Linked DNA regions of Homo sapiens. The protein of the gene in region 1 interacts with the protein of each later gene in a pairwise test. Each region holds a gene or a part of one and is shown on either strand. Other genes may lie near its edges.

Evidence for each region.
Region 2: the proteins of TSC22D3 (region 1) and HPCAL4 interact in a two-hybrid assay, tested with the Homo sapiens proteins (one large-scale study listed by BioGRID and IntAct).
Region 3: the proteins of TSC22D3 (region 1) and MAD1L1 interact in binary tests that used the Homo sapiens proteins (3 or more experiments, as listed by UniProt).
Region 4: the proteins of TSC22D3 (region 1) and DCLK2 interact in a two-hybrid assay, tested with the Homo sapiens proteins (one large-scale study listed by BioGRID and IntAct).

What each region holds. Positions count from the first base shown.
Region 1 is NC_000023.11:107,768,604-107,773,705, forward strand, and holds part of TSC22D3 (TSC22 domain family protein 3), read right to left. Parts: intron 1-5,102. UniProt on the Homo sapiens protein: Protects T-cells from IL2 deprivation-induced apoptosis through the inhibition of FOXO3A transcriptional activity that leads to the down-regulation of the pro-apoptotic factor BCL2L11.
Region 2 is NC_000001.11:39,688,634-39,692,772, forward strand, and holds the start of HPCAL4 (hippocalcin-like protein 4), read right to left. Parts: upstream 2,801-4,139; 5' UTR 2,673-2,800; intron 2,538-2,672; exon of another isoform or gene 2,432-2,537; intron 1-2,431. UniProt on the Homo sapiens protein: May be involved in the calcium-dependent regulation of rhodopsin phosphorylation.
Region 3 is NC_000007.14:2,215,946-2,219,445, reverse strand, and holds part of MAD1L1 (mitotic spindle assembly checkpoint protein MAD1), read left to right. Parts: coding exon 1-114; intron 115-1,402; coding exon 1,403-1,484; intron 1,485-3,158; coding exon 3,159-3,289; intron 3,290-3,446; coding exon 3,447-3,500. UniProt on the Homo sapiens protein: Component of the spindle-assembly checkpoint that prevents the onset of anaphase until all chromosomes are properly aligned at the metaphase plate.
Region 4 is NC_000004.12:150,231,945-150,235,444, forward strand, and holds part of DCLK2 (serine/threonine-protein kinase DCLK2), read left to right. Parts: intron 1-392; coding exon 393-512; intron 513-737; coding exon 738-884; intron 885-3,500. UniProt on the Homo sapiens protein: Protein kinase with a significantly reduced C(a2+)/CAM affinity and dependence compared to other members of the CaMK family.

The sequences.
Region 1 (5,102 bases):
TGCTGTCCAGGCCCCGTGCTGTAACAGCCCAAGCTAGGCCTTCCATGGACTCCAGCCCCATCTCTCTACCTCTCTCCTCCAAAGTTGGCTTTGCCACATTCCAGTCCCATAGGACCCTATTCCCAGTGGGCTGTCACCATGACCAGAGGTCTGATAAACAAATCCATACAAAGTAGTTAATGGCAAGTAATGGTGTCACATGTTACTCTTTAAAAAGGTATGCTAGACCTTGGCCATTCATGAGAGATACACACTAAAACTTTTGCCAGTCTCCAACTCATGGATGCAATCTCCAAAGCATGTCATTTCCCCCATAAAAAGTCCATTCCCAGGCAGCACCATCACTTTGCCAAACTTTGTAGCTTTCTCTTCGTTGTAATCACTAGCACCAGCAGCTGGCTTAGAGAGGGAGCATTCTCCTCAAGGAATGCCCTGAGACATTTGCTCATTTTATGACAGGTTCCTACGTATGTGTTGACTACGAGCAGTAGACCACAAAATTGTGTTGAAAAGTAGGTGCTGGGCAATGCCACTCCTAGGTATATACCCCAAAGAATTAAAAGCAGGGACTTGAACAGATACTTGTACACCAGTGTTCATAGCAGCATTCTTCATAATAGCCAAAAGAGGGCAACAACCTAAGTGTCCACTGACAGATGAATGGATAAGCAAAAGAGGTATATCCATACAATGGAATTTTATTCAGCCATAAAAAGAATGAAGTACTGATATGTGCTACAACATGGATGAACTTTAAAACATGTTGAGTGAAAGAAATCAGACACAAAATATTGTATGATTCAATTTATATGAAATATCTAAATAGGCAAATCCATAGAGACAGAAAGTAGAATAGAGGTTACCAGGGGGTAGTGGGAGGGGAAAATAGGGAAACGGTGAGTTATTCTTTAATGGGTACAGAGTTTTTGTTTGGGATGATGACAAAATTTTGGGAATGATAATGGTTGCACAACATTGTTAATATACCTAATGCTACTGAATCGTACACTTAGAAATGGTTAAAATGGCAAATTTTATATCTATTTTACCACTATATATATATATGTACTATGTACAATATATGCATATAATACATCTCTCTCTTTCTCTTTCACACACACACACACACACACACACACACACTAGTAGATGTGGGGTAGGGCACCAGGCTCACTCATTGGTGAAAGGACCGGCCCCCACCTACTAGTCTCCTTGCACATGTGATTCACATCTGTGCCTCAGCAAAAACACAGTTTCTTACCAGTCTGAGTTCTCATGAAGTATCCAAACCATGAATGTTAAGTTTGCAAATGCATTTGTGCTTTTAATGGAGAAGGTCCCTTAATCCAAGAATGCCTATTCTTTGTCAGACCACTAGGCACTCAGGAAATAGTTATTTTAAATTACTTTGGGCTATGAAAGGACTTTTGAAGCTTGATACCAAAAGCAAAAATCACAAAGGCAAAGAATGACAGGCTTAACCACACAGAAACCCAAAACCGCTCTACAGCGAGTAACTCCATCCTCAAAATCAAATGGTAAATTAGTTGACAATGCGTTGCAATCTCTAATACAGGGTTTCTCACAGTGTGGTCTACATACCAGCGGTGCTCTGGGAGAGGAATTTTAGATGGTACATGGACAGAGAACTGAATCTTAAATAGTATGAACTTAGGCACTGCAGCAGGCAGCCACTCAAATCATGCCGTGTGAGTGGCCACCACCTCAGAAGCCAGGTCCAGGAATATACATTATGAAATTACTTGTTCTGAGACTCACTTAGAGAAGCACAAATAATTTTTTGCACAAATTTTTCTTGAAAACCTGATCTCTGAATCTATATCCTTCCCCTTTGTTACTATATTAATAGGGGATATTAAATGAATTAGCACACATAAAGCAATTAGAAATGTTTGCTATTTTTATCATTTTCTGAGCATTTATATATGGGAACCAGTTGGGGCCAGGTCAGAAGCTTAAAGGTAGAATCCTAGGGTTTTTAGAGCTGGAAGGGAAATCGGATTCAGAGTATTTCAGACCACACTAGCCAGGTACGCTCTGGGGTCAAAGGTAGAATAGAGCTGATTAAGAGGTTTTGGGTAAAATCTTAGAAAAAAATTTGAGGTTACAGCAACAGCAATCACAACGAATACTGTCAAAGCTCCTGTTACAGGTTGTTATACCTTACAGGTCAGAAAAATTAAGGAAGGCTCTTCAAATGTCAACTTGGGAAGCTTTTTCATATGCTACATTTAAATTGGAAACTTCTGCTGTTTGCCCAGAATATTCTATCTCCCTCCTAAGTTTTCCAGTATTAGAAGCATATTCAAATGACAAGGGGGAAGTCCCCTAACAACAGGGTGACCAACCATCCCAGTTTCCCTAGGACTGTTCCAGTTTGAGCACAGGCAGTCCTATGTCACAGGACTGGGATGGTTGGTTTCCCTACCTAATAAGGACATTTTGACCATTTGGAAAGGTTCTGAGCTCACATTTACCTCTGCTTCATAGACAATTCTTAAGTGTTACAAGAATTTCTTTAGCATTAGTTTAGTTACTGAGTGTTCTTAACAATTCTTTCTTCATAGACAATTCAGGCTCTGCTCTTCATTGTGAGGCATTGGGCAAGATACTTAATTTTTTCCAAGCCTCAATTTCCTTCTTTATAAAATGAAAATGGATGATAATAGTACCCATTTGGTCGGGCGCAGTGGCTCATGCCTGTAATCCCAGCACCTTGGGAGGCCGAGGCTGGTGGATCATTTGAGATCAGGAGATCGAGACCAGCCTGACTAATATGGTGAAACCCCATCTCTACGAAAAATACAAAAATTAGCCGAGTGTGGTGGCGTGCGCCTGTAGTCCCAGCTACTGAGGAGGCTGAGACAGGGGAATTGCTTGAACCCAGGAGGTGGAGACTGCAGTGAGCTGAGATCGTGCCACTGCACTCCAGCCTGGGCGACAGAACAAGACTCCGTCTCAAAATAAATAAATAAATAAACAAATAAATAAATAAATCCATTCCAAAGAGTTGATGTAAATATTAAATTAGATTATGCAGGTACATTGTGAATGTTCAAGAAGTGTTAGTTATTAATCTGTTATGGTTATTAGTTACATAATACAAGATTGAAAGGATGGTGTTTAAAATACACTTCTTCCCCAACCCAATTGTTTACAGGTACCATTTACATACCAACAGGCTGCATGCCCATTCTCACTGATTCGTATGTATATACACAGCACTATCAGGACTTCCATCAGGCTATGAGAGTTACTGCATGTGGTTAAAACGGAAGGAAAACAACTTTTAAACATTAATAAGGATTTTCTAGCACAGTATAAAGTTGTAAAATCTTTACAAGGGACCACGTCAATATTTAAGTAGTCATCCAACTGAAGAAACCTTTATTGAATATTGGCTGTATAACTAAAAGCCAAGGGAAAACCAAGCAAGTAAAACACAGCCCTACCCTCAAATTGCTTATACTCTTGTGTTCCAAGGAAACCAAGAACGAAGCTGGGAGCCAGGGACAGGTCAAAGCAGACAAACCAGATGTAAATCAAGAATGTGCCCTGCTCTTCTTCCTAAAAATATAGGAGCCCTCTTGGCAAAGGAATGGACTGCAGGAGGAGGGGTGGGAGACTAGCTTCTCCAGCAGGAGAGGCCTTGAAAGTTGACAAAGGAAAAAAGCACCCAACAGGAACCTGAAATGTCAAATCATTAAATTGAATAGAAGTAAAAACGATGGCTGAAGTATGATGATAGAAACCCAGGGAATTTAATGAAGTAACAAGGGATATGTTCACTTAGGAGAAGGCTGTCTACCCCAGATATTGGAGAAGCCCCATGACCAGCAATAATGGTCTTCTAGTTTGCTAATGAGCATGTCATACTGGGCAAAACCTAAACCGAATTCAGAATCCCCAGTCTCTAAGGTCCCAATTGTCAAGGAAAACAAGAGGGGATCAGTGGCTCATGCCTGTGATCCTGGCACTTTGGGAGGCTGAGGTGGGCAGGTCGCTTAAGCCCAGGAGTTTGAGACCAGCCTGCACAACATGGCAAGATCCCGTCCCTATAAAAAAAAAATACAAAAATTAGCTGGGCATGGTGGTGTGTGCCTGTAGTCCCAGCTACTTGGGAGGCTGAAGTGGGAGGATCGATGGAGCCCAGGAGTTTGAGGCTGCAGTGAGCTGTGATCATGCAACTGCACTCCAGCCTGGGTGACAGAGTGAGACCCTGTCTCAGGAAAAAAATAAATAAATAAAAATAAATAAAAGCAAGAGAATACTTTGTCCTCTTAGAACTATAAGACTGTTACCACAGGACCCTGTTATTCCCAGCCTTAGCGAAGCCTGAGAGCTTGCTGGTTAGCTCCTCACTGGTTTTGAACGCTGAGTGAGTTGCTCTGATCGAAGGAGGCAGGGTGCTCACACAAACCTTTCCTACAATTTGCGCTTCTCCCTCAACCAATACCTATAATGCCACCCCACTACATCTCCACCCTGTAGCATTTCCAGGCTTTGCCTAAAACCAAGAGTCAATAAACTCGTATTAGTGGAGTAGATGACAAAGGAGGTATTCCCTTTCCACAAACCCAAACAACCAGGATGCTCCCGAGGTGTGGCAGAAGGAAACACTTTGATCTCAGGCTTTTAGCCTCACACTTCCCTCACCCAGGTTTGACCCTCCTAGGGCCAGAACCAGAAGAGGCGCCCCCTCTCACACTTTCCTAAAGCCTGGAGTGGCAGTTTCTCTCCCAGTTGAACAAATGCAAATGCTACAAGCGCTCTTTCCAGGTTTTTCTACTACCCCTCCCCCACTGCCACTCTCCAACAGAGACAGGCGGGATCCTTAGGAGCCTGTTAGGGCTTTCGCTTGGCAGGATTTCAACGTCTGTGGGCTGAATACACTTGTAGTAATCTTTCACTAGAAATGAAGATTCCCTCGAAACCTTTCTGCCCGCAGCCTGGTTTATTTTATTTTATTATTTTTAAAAATTCAGCCTGGTTTATTTTAGACAATGAGATAATTTGATGCCTAAAGTGAAATAATAGATGAGAAAGGGCTTCAATGGTGTCGAAAATGCCCGAGGAATACG
Region 2 (4,139 bases), on another chromosome or scaffold:
GGGCCCCCTGAAACTCTAGAATCCTCTAGAATCTGGTCTCAAAGTGCCCACCTATCTCGCCTCAGCTCTCATTGCTCACTCACCACCGCATACTCCTCTCAAGCCAGCCTTCTCACAGCCAGACACGCCTCACCTCTTTGCTAAGCTATTTTCCTCTCCCCTAATATCCTTTCTTCTCTCCTGGACTATAATCAGTCTTCAGGGCCTGGTTGAAGCCTGCTTCCTTATGATCAGCCTTTTCCAGTCTGGACAGTGGAGAGTCAGCAGCCCAAGCTCAGCACTTTGGGCATGAGTCAGTCCCCCACAGGCGTGTAGACTTCATAGCCCTCTGACCCTCACCTGGTGCTGTAGAATTCCAGGATGCAGTCTGATTTGAGACAGGTCTTTGCATTAAACCCCTGCCTGAGTCAGAAAAAAAATCCTCCAGACCTTTTTGCTCAATGGCAAGGAGTTGATCCCCTCCAATATGCCCCAGTCCACTTTTGAGCAGGTTGAAGCGTGAGAAAAGTTTATTTTTCCCATGGGGAAAATAAAAGTGCTTTTCCCTATGCACTCACTTCTCCCAGTGAGTGCTTAGTCCTCACTGAGTCTGGGACCCATGAGAGCAGGGGTTTTTTCTCTCTTATAGCTCCCCTACCCTGGTTCCCACCCTGCCTTCTGTGCCTGCACAGAACTGCTCTGTGGAGACGCAGTGGCAATGCCTAGGACACAGTGATGTTCAATGAATGTCTCTTGGTGGATTACGTAAGAGGAGCAGAACCCCCTTCTTCCTCCCTGGATCTATGTCAGGCTGTTTTGTTTATCTGTGTTCTCCTGCTATCACACCCACTTCAGAGACAATGGAACCCAGACCTAGGGGAAGGAAGGGTTCACCCCAGGTCAACTATAGCCCATCAGCAGCAAAGTGAAGGCCAGAACCCAGCTGGGGACATGCTCTGCTGGAGCTGTGGCCCTGCTGAACATGGGCAGGCTCCTCTGCTTACCTCTTGAGGGCTGTCCTCCAGCTATGAAGGAGCTGGGACTGTCCCATACACAAAACCATTGTCCCAGTGTGCCCAGAGGTTTCTTCAAGAGGGCTAAGGGCTGTGGGCTTTGAATGGAGAGGTGGCTGAGGCTTTGAATGGGAGGGACTGAAGGAGGCAATAATCCCACACCCTCACCCAGCTTCAGAGGAGCTGGTACTGAGGTGGTTGCCATGGTGACAATAGCTCCCTGGTCAGGAGATTTTTTCTCTCTTTCCTCTCCTCCCTTTGCTCTTCCCCAAGCAGCAGCAATAGCAGCAGCAACCAGGTCTTTTCCCTCTTCTTCTTAATGAGAGGCAGGGGATGACAAACAAAGAGTAATCCCAGCTGGCCACCTACAATTTGGAGCTGTCCATGTCAGGATGGGCTGGTGGTCTAGGAGGGACTCCTAATAGAAGGGGCCTGGAGAATGTGTGGGAGGAGGTAGCCTGTACCTAGGCTGGTTAAGAAGGAATGTGTCTTCAGTGAGTTCTAAACCAACCCCGCCCCCCTCAGGTCTCCTCTCTTTAATGTCCTCTTGGTTCAGGATCCTGTTTTTCCATAATCAGCCATAGAACCAGAGTGTCTCAGTGCCAGAAGGCTGTTCAAGTTCATCTCACCCAGTCTACCCTCTCTGTTATACCTCTCCCCATTTTCATGAAGGATCAGAGAGGGGAGTGACTTGGCCAAAGTCAAACTTTGGCTGTACAAGATTTGAACCCAGCTCATCTGCCCTCCAGGTATAGTTCACTTTAGGGCCAAGAGCAATACAGCCCACATGGCACCTTGGCAAGGTCCCCACGGAGCAGCAGGAAGGTGGGAGAGAGGGAGCAAATAGTCATACAAATTAGAAAGACATTTGACAGGCAGAATGAGAGGATTTGGTGCCTGGCTGTGAGGGGGGAGGGAGGAGGTATGGAGGTTGGGGCCTTGGCAGCAACTGGACTGACGGTATGGGTGGTCTGCTGGGGGTGGTGTCTTTGGTTCATCCTCCCGCCAGGATGAGAGATGCCAAATATGGGGCCTCTGCCTAGCACTGGGGGCCACTGGGGAGGGCTGTCGAGACTGTGAGGAGAAAAACTGGGGAAGGGGGATTGTCCCCCCCTCAGGTATGCTGTGGGCTCTGTCAGCTTGAGGGGTGGGATGTGGGGACAGTGTCTGGGGACAACAAGGAGGGAGCGCTCTGTGGAGGGGGAGGCTGTCTTTGGGGGCAGGGGCTCCCTGATGAGAAGTGGCTAGGGGCTATCCGTGGAGGTGGGAGTTTGCCATGGTGCTGGGCAGACAACCCATATCCAAACAGGAGGGAGGGTGACCAGCGCCTCCAGCTAGCACCAGCGCCACCACACCCCCAGATGTGTGTGTGTGCATCTGTGTGTGTATGTGTGTTTGCGCGCGTGTATGTTGGGGGCCATAGCAATGGTTGTTCTCACCTGAGCTGGGGATAAGTAGGCGGCTCTGCCTCCTTCTCTGCACCCATGGGCCTGGACTGAGGTGGGGGGTCTCCTGCCCAGGGGTGGGCTCTTCAGTTGCTGCCGCCTAAGGCGGAACCACGGGTCAGGGAGGTGAATCAGGGCAGGACATGAGGATGGGAAGGGAGAGTGGAGGGGGAGGGGGCCAGGGCCTCCGCCCGGTGGGTTTGTTGCCTTGAGGACCCGGTCCCACTCGCATTACCTGAGGCCGGTCGCCGGGTCGCTGGATGGCTCCGAGCCTCGGCGGGCCGCGGGAACCGAGGCTGGCTCGCGGGCCGGCAGCTGTGCTCTCCAAGGTCTGCGCCGGAGCCGCCTTCCAGCTCTTGTATCACTATGTGCCTCCCGAAGGCGACACTATTTGCATAAGCCCCGCCCCATCCCGGGCAGGTTGCACGGCTATTGGCTCCTCTGGAGCGGAGTGGCAGGCGGGGTTTCAGGTGGGGACCGGGTGGCCGGCGAGGCCCGGCCGCAGGAGCGCGCCCCGCCTGCCCGCGCTGACCTTCCCGGAGTCGCCGGGAAGCGGGAGGGCTGCACCCCCATCTGCACCCCTGCCCTGAGGCTCAGCCCCCGGCTTACAAGTCTGGGGTGGAAAGGGTCGACGATGAAAGTGGATTCTCAAAAACAACCTCACCGTTGCTATGGAAACGGGAGAACCACAGCCGAATCTCTAAGCTTCCTTTCCTGGGCCCCAGCATGGGTGGGGGCGGAAGAGGGGATGAGTCACAAGATGAGACCCCCCCCCACACCCATATCCCACCCGAAATTGGGAGGGGCCAAAGAGGAGCTGGGGAGGAGCTGGGTGGGAGAGGGAGGAGGTGGCTGGTCAGCAGTCCACATCTCTGCGTCCCCCCTCCCCACGCATCCACTCCCCTCACGCCGTGGGGCAGAGAGGAGGGTGCTGGTTGCGCGCGGAGAGCGCGGTATGGGTGGCGAAGTCCCAGCCTCTACCTAGCCCCGCGCTAGTCGTGGGTTCCCTCCAGCCACCCCTCTGGCCCTTCATTCCGGTCCCTCCCCAGACGGGCCCTCCTCCTTTCTCATGGACCCCCAAGAGGCCTCTCGCGTTCTCCCCCGAAGGACCCCTATGCCTAGCCATGGATCCTCCATTCCCCACCCTCCCGTTTTCCCGTCCCGCAGACGGAGCCGGTCCCCAGCCGCCGCCAGTCTCCGGCCTCGGATGTTGACACAAACCCGAGGCGGTTTACACTGAGCGGGTCTGGAAGCTTTCAGGGCCCCGGCAACACCTCCTCCCCGCACTTGGGGGTCTCCCCACAGCCCGGGCCGGCCGCCTGGGCTGCACTGGCGTCTGAGAGCTCCTGACACAAGGCTGTGGGAAGGAACCCTTTTAAGCCAAACTGGGGGCAAAAGGGGAGCCAGACATCCCCGGGCTGGGCCACGTGCGGGGCAGGGACTTCTAAGGATCTGTCGAAAGTCGGGGCGGACGGCTGGGGATTGGCCTAATCGGAGCGCGGACGCTGAAGAGCAGCGGTGAGAGGCGGGGCTTCTGTCCGCGCGGCGAAGGTAGAGGTGGGCTGGGCGGGGCGATGGAGGATGGGGTCAGACCTGCCGCGAGTGGGGGCGAGGCTTCTGGAGCTGGTCCCAGAAATGCCTGGGCCAGGCTCGCTGGGGGAGGAACCCGTGGACGTCCCTTTTCTTTAGGACCTGTCCCGTT
Region 3 (3,500 bases), on another chromosome or scaffold:
ACTGAAGGGGAGGATCTCGGAACTGCAGTGGAGCGTGATGGACCAGGAGATGCGGGTGAAGCGCCTGGAGTCGGAGAAGCAGGAGCTGCAGGAGCAGCTGGACCTGCAACACAAGTGGGCGGGGCCAGGGTGTGGGGTCGGGGGTCGGGTCACGTGTGGGGGCATGCGTCCCACCTCTCTCCTGGTGGCTGGGTGGGATGTGGATACACTCCCAGATGCTGTCCTAATTCACAGACACTCAAGAGGGGCAGATGCTGAGGCCTCTGGAGCCAGGACCGTGAGCCCAGAAAGTGTCCTGATGTTCCTGGAGCAGAATGGGGGCAGCAACTTCCTCCCCCTCCTTCTTAGAGAGGGCTCCTGCAGAGCCAGATTTTACTTTATTTTTTGAGACAGGGTCTCACTCTGTCGTCCAGCCTGGAGTGCAATGGTGTAATCATGGCTCACTGTAGCCTCAACCTCCTGGGCTCAAGTGATCCTCCTGCCTTAGCCTCCCGAGTAACTGGGTCTGCAAGCATGTGCAGTACACCTGGCTAATTTTTTTTTTTTTGAGATTGAGTCTCGCTGTGTCACCCAGGCTGGAGTGCAGTGGCACCATCTCGGCTCACTGCAGCCTCCGCCTCCTGGGTTCAGTGATTCTCCTGCCTCGGCCTCCTGAGTAGCTGGGATTAGTTTTGCACCTGGCTAATTTTAAAAAACGTTTTGTAGAGATGGCGGTCTCGCTTTGTAACCCAGGCTGGTCTTGAGCTCCTGGCCTCAAGCGATCCTCCTGCCTCAGCCTCCTAGAGTGCTGGGATCCCAGGCTGAGCCGCCGTACCCTGCTGAGGGCTAGGTTGAAAGGGCAGCATCATGTGCCTTGGAGGTGGAGGGGGCGTGGCTGGGAAGGGATGTCCAGGCACAGGGCTGAGCCGAGGCACAGACGTGAGAGCCTTGTCTGGAGGTGCAGTCAGGAGACTGTGGGCATCTCCTGCAGACTTGGACCCTTCCATCAGCAGATGTGGTTTTAGGAGAGTTCTAGTTCCGTAGTAGAGAGGAGAGGTCATTCCTGGGTGGGGCCCTACCGCAGCTGCACCAGGGCTGGGGGTTGCCGCAGGCAGGTGAGAGCTGTGGGTTCCACTGTTGGAGAGGTCCTTGCAGGTGGCCTGGGCTCACTACGCACCCCGTCTGAATGAGCAGACTGAGGCCTGAGAGCCAGCCCACAGGGGCTGGGGCCTGGGACCTTGGGGTACCCATGCAGTGGAGTGTGTGTTGGCGGGGGGCGGGGGGTCTGTGCCGTGGGAGGTCCTGAACCTTGGGGTGGGAATGAACGTATGTGGGTCTGTGCTGGGGCGGGTCTCAGGCTGAGGAGAATTGTTGGCCTTGCCGCATGCCTGTTTCTGTGTGTGATGTATTTTTCTTTCAATAGAAAATGCCAGGAAGCCAATCAGAAAATCCAGGAACTCCAGGCCAGCCAAGAAGCAAGAGCAGACCACGAGCAGCAGATTAAGGTGAGTCACTCCCTGTCAGTGCCTTGTGGACATCCCTGTGGTGGCCTTGACTCTCCTGCCCCTGTCGGCCTTTCTGCGCTGGTGCCGAGCTCCGTGGTCCTTCTGTGAGGTTAGCTGCTGCCCTGTGTGTTGGGCACTGTGCTGGGCACCAGGGATGCCATGGTGAATGAGGCAGATGCTTCCGCTCTTGGGAGCGTGTATTCTAGAGGAGGGAGACTGACCACAAACACCAAGAGAAAATGTCCGTGTGTGTGATGACGTCAAGTGCTGATGAGCGTGAGAAGATGCTACAGGCATAGAGAGGTTGAGAAAGCTGCCCACAGTTGCACAGCTGGAGCTGGGTCTCAGTCAGGGCATCTGACTCAAGCTCAGGCTGTGCCATTTCCCTGCGGAGGACGTGCCAGGGAGACGTTGACTCCAGATCCCTCTCCTGCCTCCTGTTGCCTGGAGAGCAGCCTCCAGACCCTGTGCTCTGGCCGTGCCCTCTCAGCCCTTATGCACCCTCACCTCCAGGCTTCACACCAGCTCTTCCTGGCTGCAGAGCTGCCCGGCACCCCCAGCCTGGCCTCTGCCATGTCCGCTCCTGGTGGTGGTCCCTGGCCCCTCGCAGCCCTCAGTCCACCTCTCAGGATTTTCTGGCTGGCAGGGCGATGGACTCTGTTAGTGTTTGTTGAATGACCGTCTGGTTTGGTCGTGGTTTCATACTCTGCCTGTTCAGTGACTTGCTGCTCACAGATGCCAGCTGTCTGTGTCCCAAGGGGACTGGGTACCGTAGGGAAAAGCCTGTCCTCACTATTGGAAAGACTGAGCTGTCACACGTGCTGCTAGAGTGGCAGAAGTGGGCTTGACACGGGAGGGGTGGGATGTTTTACCATGGAGTGCCATCCTGGACCAGACTTGAGACAGACTTTTGCTCCTGGAGAGCTCCCCGAGGGCAGGTGGTGAGCACAGCAGCCCGGCAGTGTGCAGTGTGAATGCCAGCTCCCAGTACGCGGAGGGCTGGGAGGTCGGCGCTGGGAAGAGCTGCCCTGGAGTGGATGCTGAGGCTCAGTATTGGAAGCAGCTTCGAGGCCCCTGGTGCAGCCCAGGAAGGCCTCCCACAGGAGAGTCCTGAGGCATGGAGGCTGCTGAGGACCTGGGGCAGTTTAGCGAAGGAACTTTGTGACCTCAATGACTTTAATTTTTAATGGATGGTATTTTCTAGAGCAATTTTAGGTTCACAGCAAAATGAGCAGAAGGTAAAGCTCCTGTGTACCCCCTGCGCCCGCTCCTACACACACAGCCTACCCTGGTAGAGTGGAGCACGTGTGACGGTGATGAACCTGCCTGGACACATCAGTGTCACGCAGAGTCCACGGGTCATGCGAGGGTCACTCTTGGAGTGGGACAGTGTATGGTTCGGGCAGATGTAAAATGTTCTATATTTGCCATTAGAGTGTCACACAGAAAAGTTTTACTGCCTAAAAATCCTCTCTGCTCCCCCAGTCAATCCCTGCCTCTCTCCTTCTGAGCCCTTGACAACCCCTTCCTTTCCCAGAACGTCCTGTGGTTGGATCCTGCAGTGTGTATAGCCGTTGCAGACCGGCTTCCTTCTCTTAGCCGTGTGCGTGTGATTTTCTCCAGGTCTCTTCGTGGCTCATTTTTCCCTTCTTCTCTGTCCCTGGCCTCCATCAGGATCTGGAGCAGAAGCTGTCCCTGCAAGAGCAGGATGCAGCGATTGTGAAGAACATGAAGTCTGAGCTGGTACGGCTCCCTAGGCTGGAACGGGAGCTGAAGCAGCTGCGGGAGGAGAGCGCGCACCTGCGGTGAGGGGTTGCGGGGGATGGGGCAGCCGCCTCGAGTGAGTCTGGGTTTGTGCACATGGAGCCCACTGTGCAGACCCTGTAGGGGCAGGGCTCCCGGGCTCTTGGCCTTATCCCTAGGGTGTGTGGCTATTTGAGCGACTCTTTGTGGCACTGCCAGGGAGATGAGAGAGACCAACGGGCTGCTCCAGGAAGAGCTGGAAGGGCTGCAGAG
Region 4 (3,500 bases), on another chromosome or scaffold:
ATTTGTGAGTGTATACCGAAATCAAAAAGTGGCTCTGGCTGAATTACAAAGCACAGAGCTGTGTGCTGAAGCTTTCATAGCATCACAACCTCTTAAGGTGTTAGAAATAATGACAAGCGAGAAGACAGTATGCTTAATACACCACAGAAGCACCATGGAGCCTTTTGGGGGATGTTTAGGAGTCTGTATCTTTTTGGTAATGTCAATAATATGTTCACACTGACCCTGTCCCTACAGGGACAATTAGGTCAGGTTTAGTTGTCTTTGTGCCAAGAGCAATGCTTTCTTTGGCATCAGATCCACAGGCTGTGTTTGTTTTGCTGTCCTCCAGGCCTTCGAGAGCAGAGGGTTCTGTGATTTCTGATCTCCTCTCTATACCGTTCATTTGACAGGAACACCTGATTGAGAATGAAGTGTCAATACTGCGCCGAGTGAAACATCCCAATATCATTATGCTGGTCGAGGAGATGGAAACAGCAACTGAGCTCTTTCTGGTGATGGAATTGGTCAAAGTAAGAGGATAGAGAGATTTTCTTGGTGCCTAGTCCCACAATTTACAACATCCTTGAAGGACCTAATCAGAAAAGTGTATTGCTACCTCATAACTTTCATTATTTATAATCGCCGATTTTAGTGGCACTTGTGTCATTCTCTGCTTTATGCCAATGAGCCATCTTTCTTACCTTCATAGGATTGCACTGTTGATGCTTTGATATGTTCTTTTATGTATCGTTTAGGGTGGAGATCTCTTTGATGCAATTACTTCGTCGACCAAGTACACTGAGAGAGATGGCAGTGCCATGGTGTACAACTTAGCCAATGCCCTCAGGTATCTCCATGGCCTCAGCATCGTGCACAGAGACATCAAACCAGAGAATCTCTTGGTATGTCATCCCTGCTTTTTCTGTTCCAATGAATGCCTCTCTTCCTTTAAAAGGAGCACATGCAAATAATGGCATTTTATAGTCTATACCAATCCTACATTATGAGACTTTAAATTTAGAAAATTAGCAAGACTTATGTCAATGACCATCAAATACTAATGGAGTTCTTGAATTTTTCTGCATTTGTTATTTACCACTCTGCTATATTTCTCACTCTGCTATAAAGAACTACCTGAGACTGGGTAATTTATGAAGAAAAGAGGTTTGATTGACTCACAGTTCCACAGGCTTAACAGGAAGGCCTCAGGAGACTTACAATCATGGCGGAAGGCGAAGGGGAAGCAAGCACCTTCTTCACATGGTGGCAGGAGAGAAAGAGAGCGAGGAGGGAAGTGCCACACATTTTTAAACCATCGTATGTTATGAGAACTCACTACCACAGGAACAGCATGGGGGAAATCTGCTTCCATAATCAAGTCACCTCCCATAAGGTGCCTCCCCCAACATTGGGAATTACAGTTCAACATGAGATTTGGGTGGGGACACAGAGCCAAAGCATGTCACCAGATACAAGAAAATACATTTTCATTTATATTTTAATTGATGGTACTGACTTAAAGGTGAGCAGGAAAATTATTTTATAGGGCAGAAAATTGTGAAGAATAAATTTGAGACAGAATTAGAGGCTCATAGGAGACAGGAGTAGAATGTGGGGGTTCATTTATTTGCAGGGAATAATTTTGGAAATAGTCTAGTCCATTCATCTCAGCTTTACTAAAGGCATGGAAACAGAGACCAAGAGATGCCATTTTTTTTTCTTAGAAGTCTCTTTTATCCTATTATTCTACAGAATAAAAAGTCTTATTCCACTATGGTACCCAGAGTTCTTCATAGTCTGATCTCAATTTGTCTTTTCAGCTTCCTGTCCTGTTAATAACTCTTATCCATCCAACCCAACATGGTCTAAGCTTCAAGCCATATTGAACTCACCTTCATGGTGACTCTTGATAACTAGACACAGCTTGCTAATTGGGAACCAATCCTCGTGACCACGTTATAGAAGAATTTTAGAGAAACTGGTTGGGGGATTTGACATTTACACTCCTCCCAGCCCCCCACAAACACACATGACATAGTTGGCTTCTTTATTTCCACCTTTCAGGGCTCTCATCCTCATTCCTGCTTGGGAGGCAAGCTTATCTGAGTCTTCTACATCATGTTAATCCAAACACAGATTCCTCCATCCTCAGTTTTTAGTTAAGACTTGACTTACCAGCAGCCTTACACCTCCATTGCTTCTGTCCATACTGGTCTTCATTTGCAGCGTCCTCTCTTCCAGCATTGTGGTAAACCATTCATCTTGTAATACATTGAGCAAAAGTTAAGTCTTCTTTAACATCACTCTAGACTTTCTAGACAAAGTTCAGTCACAGCCACCTCGGGTTTCTGCTGCACTTGCTACGGTGTTGTGATCTTTATCATACACTTGTCTGCCTCTTTGGGATTGTAAGTACCATGGAGGCAAGGTTTGTGTCTAATTATCTTTATATCTCCAATGGTTTGGATGGTGACACGTAAACACATAACGGACAGCAGAGTATTGCTCACTGACCACTGACACTCACTCAGCTAGCAGCTGGTGCTAGAGCATGAGCCTCTACAGCCTGCTGTGAGCACCACACAAATAACTGTTGAAAGGAATATGCATTGATGCACAGCATCTGAAGCCATCCTGGGGACTTTTTATTTTTTGGCTAATCTAATCCAGAGTACCCGTCTTTTCTTTTTGGTAATATCATTTGATGATTTCTGAGTATCCATTTAAAAGTATTTGAAATTTTATCTCACTGTCTTCTGCCTTGAGGGAATTATATTTCATTTCTATATGTTCTTATTAGGAAAAGAAATATCCCTGCTCTGTGTTAAAAAAAAAAAAAAAGGGGGATTGTGGACGTGGTTTTATGAACTCTAACAAGGAATGGAGACAGAGTTGTAAACCGAGCCTCAGGAGGAAAGTTAGGATATGGCGTTCTCTCCTCAAAACAGGCTTCTCGCCCATTGGGACCTTGCAGCATGCCAGGCTCCTCCACCGTCGAACTGAGTTTGGCCCGGGCTTCGCAAACAAAGGCACAGGGCTTTCTCCAGGTGTGACCAGACACAAACACTGGGGCATTCATAAGGATACCCCCTTGACTGCTTCCTGCTCTCCACAACCTGCCTTGCCCCACTGGCTCTAGTTACTGCATTCTCTGAAAATATGGGAGCCACAGGTTCCCAAGGAACCCCTGCAGCCAGTCTGTCCAACAGCCCTGATTTAAGGCCCAGCAAAGAAGGTGACTGAGGTGCTTGTGAGCTTCCCTATAAACCAGGGAGTCCATTTCCCAGCTCACAGATCTCACTCTCACCTCCTGTTTCTTCTCTTTTCCACTCAGAGTTTCTTAATGTATGTAAAGAATCTGACACCGCCTCCTTTTTTCTTGTCACACATCAAGGGTGGATAATGTTTTTCACTTCTTCAGGAGAATTGGCTAAAATTTAAAAAATTTAAGAGTAAGTAATGTAATGGGGATTGATGTCTCCAACATCATGAGTCTCAGAATGCAATCAGGAAATCAG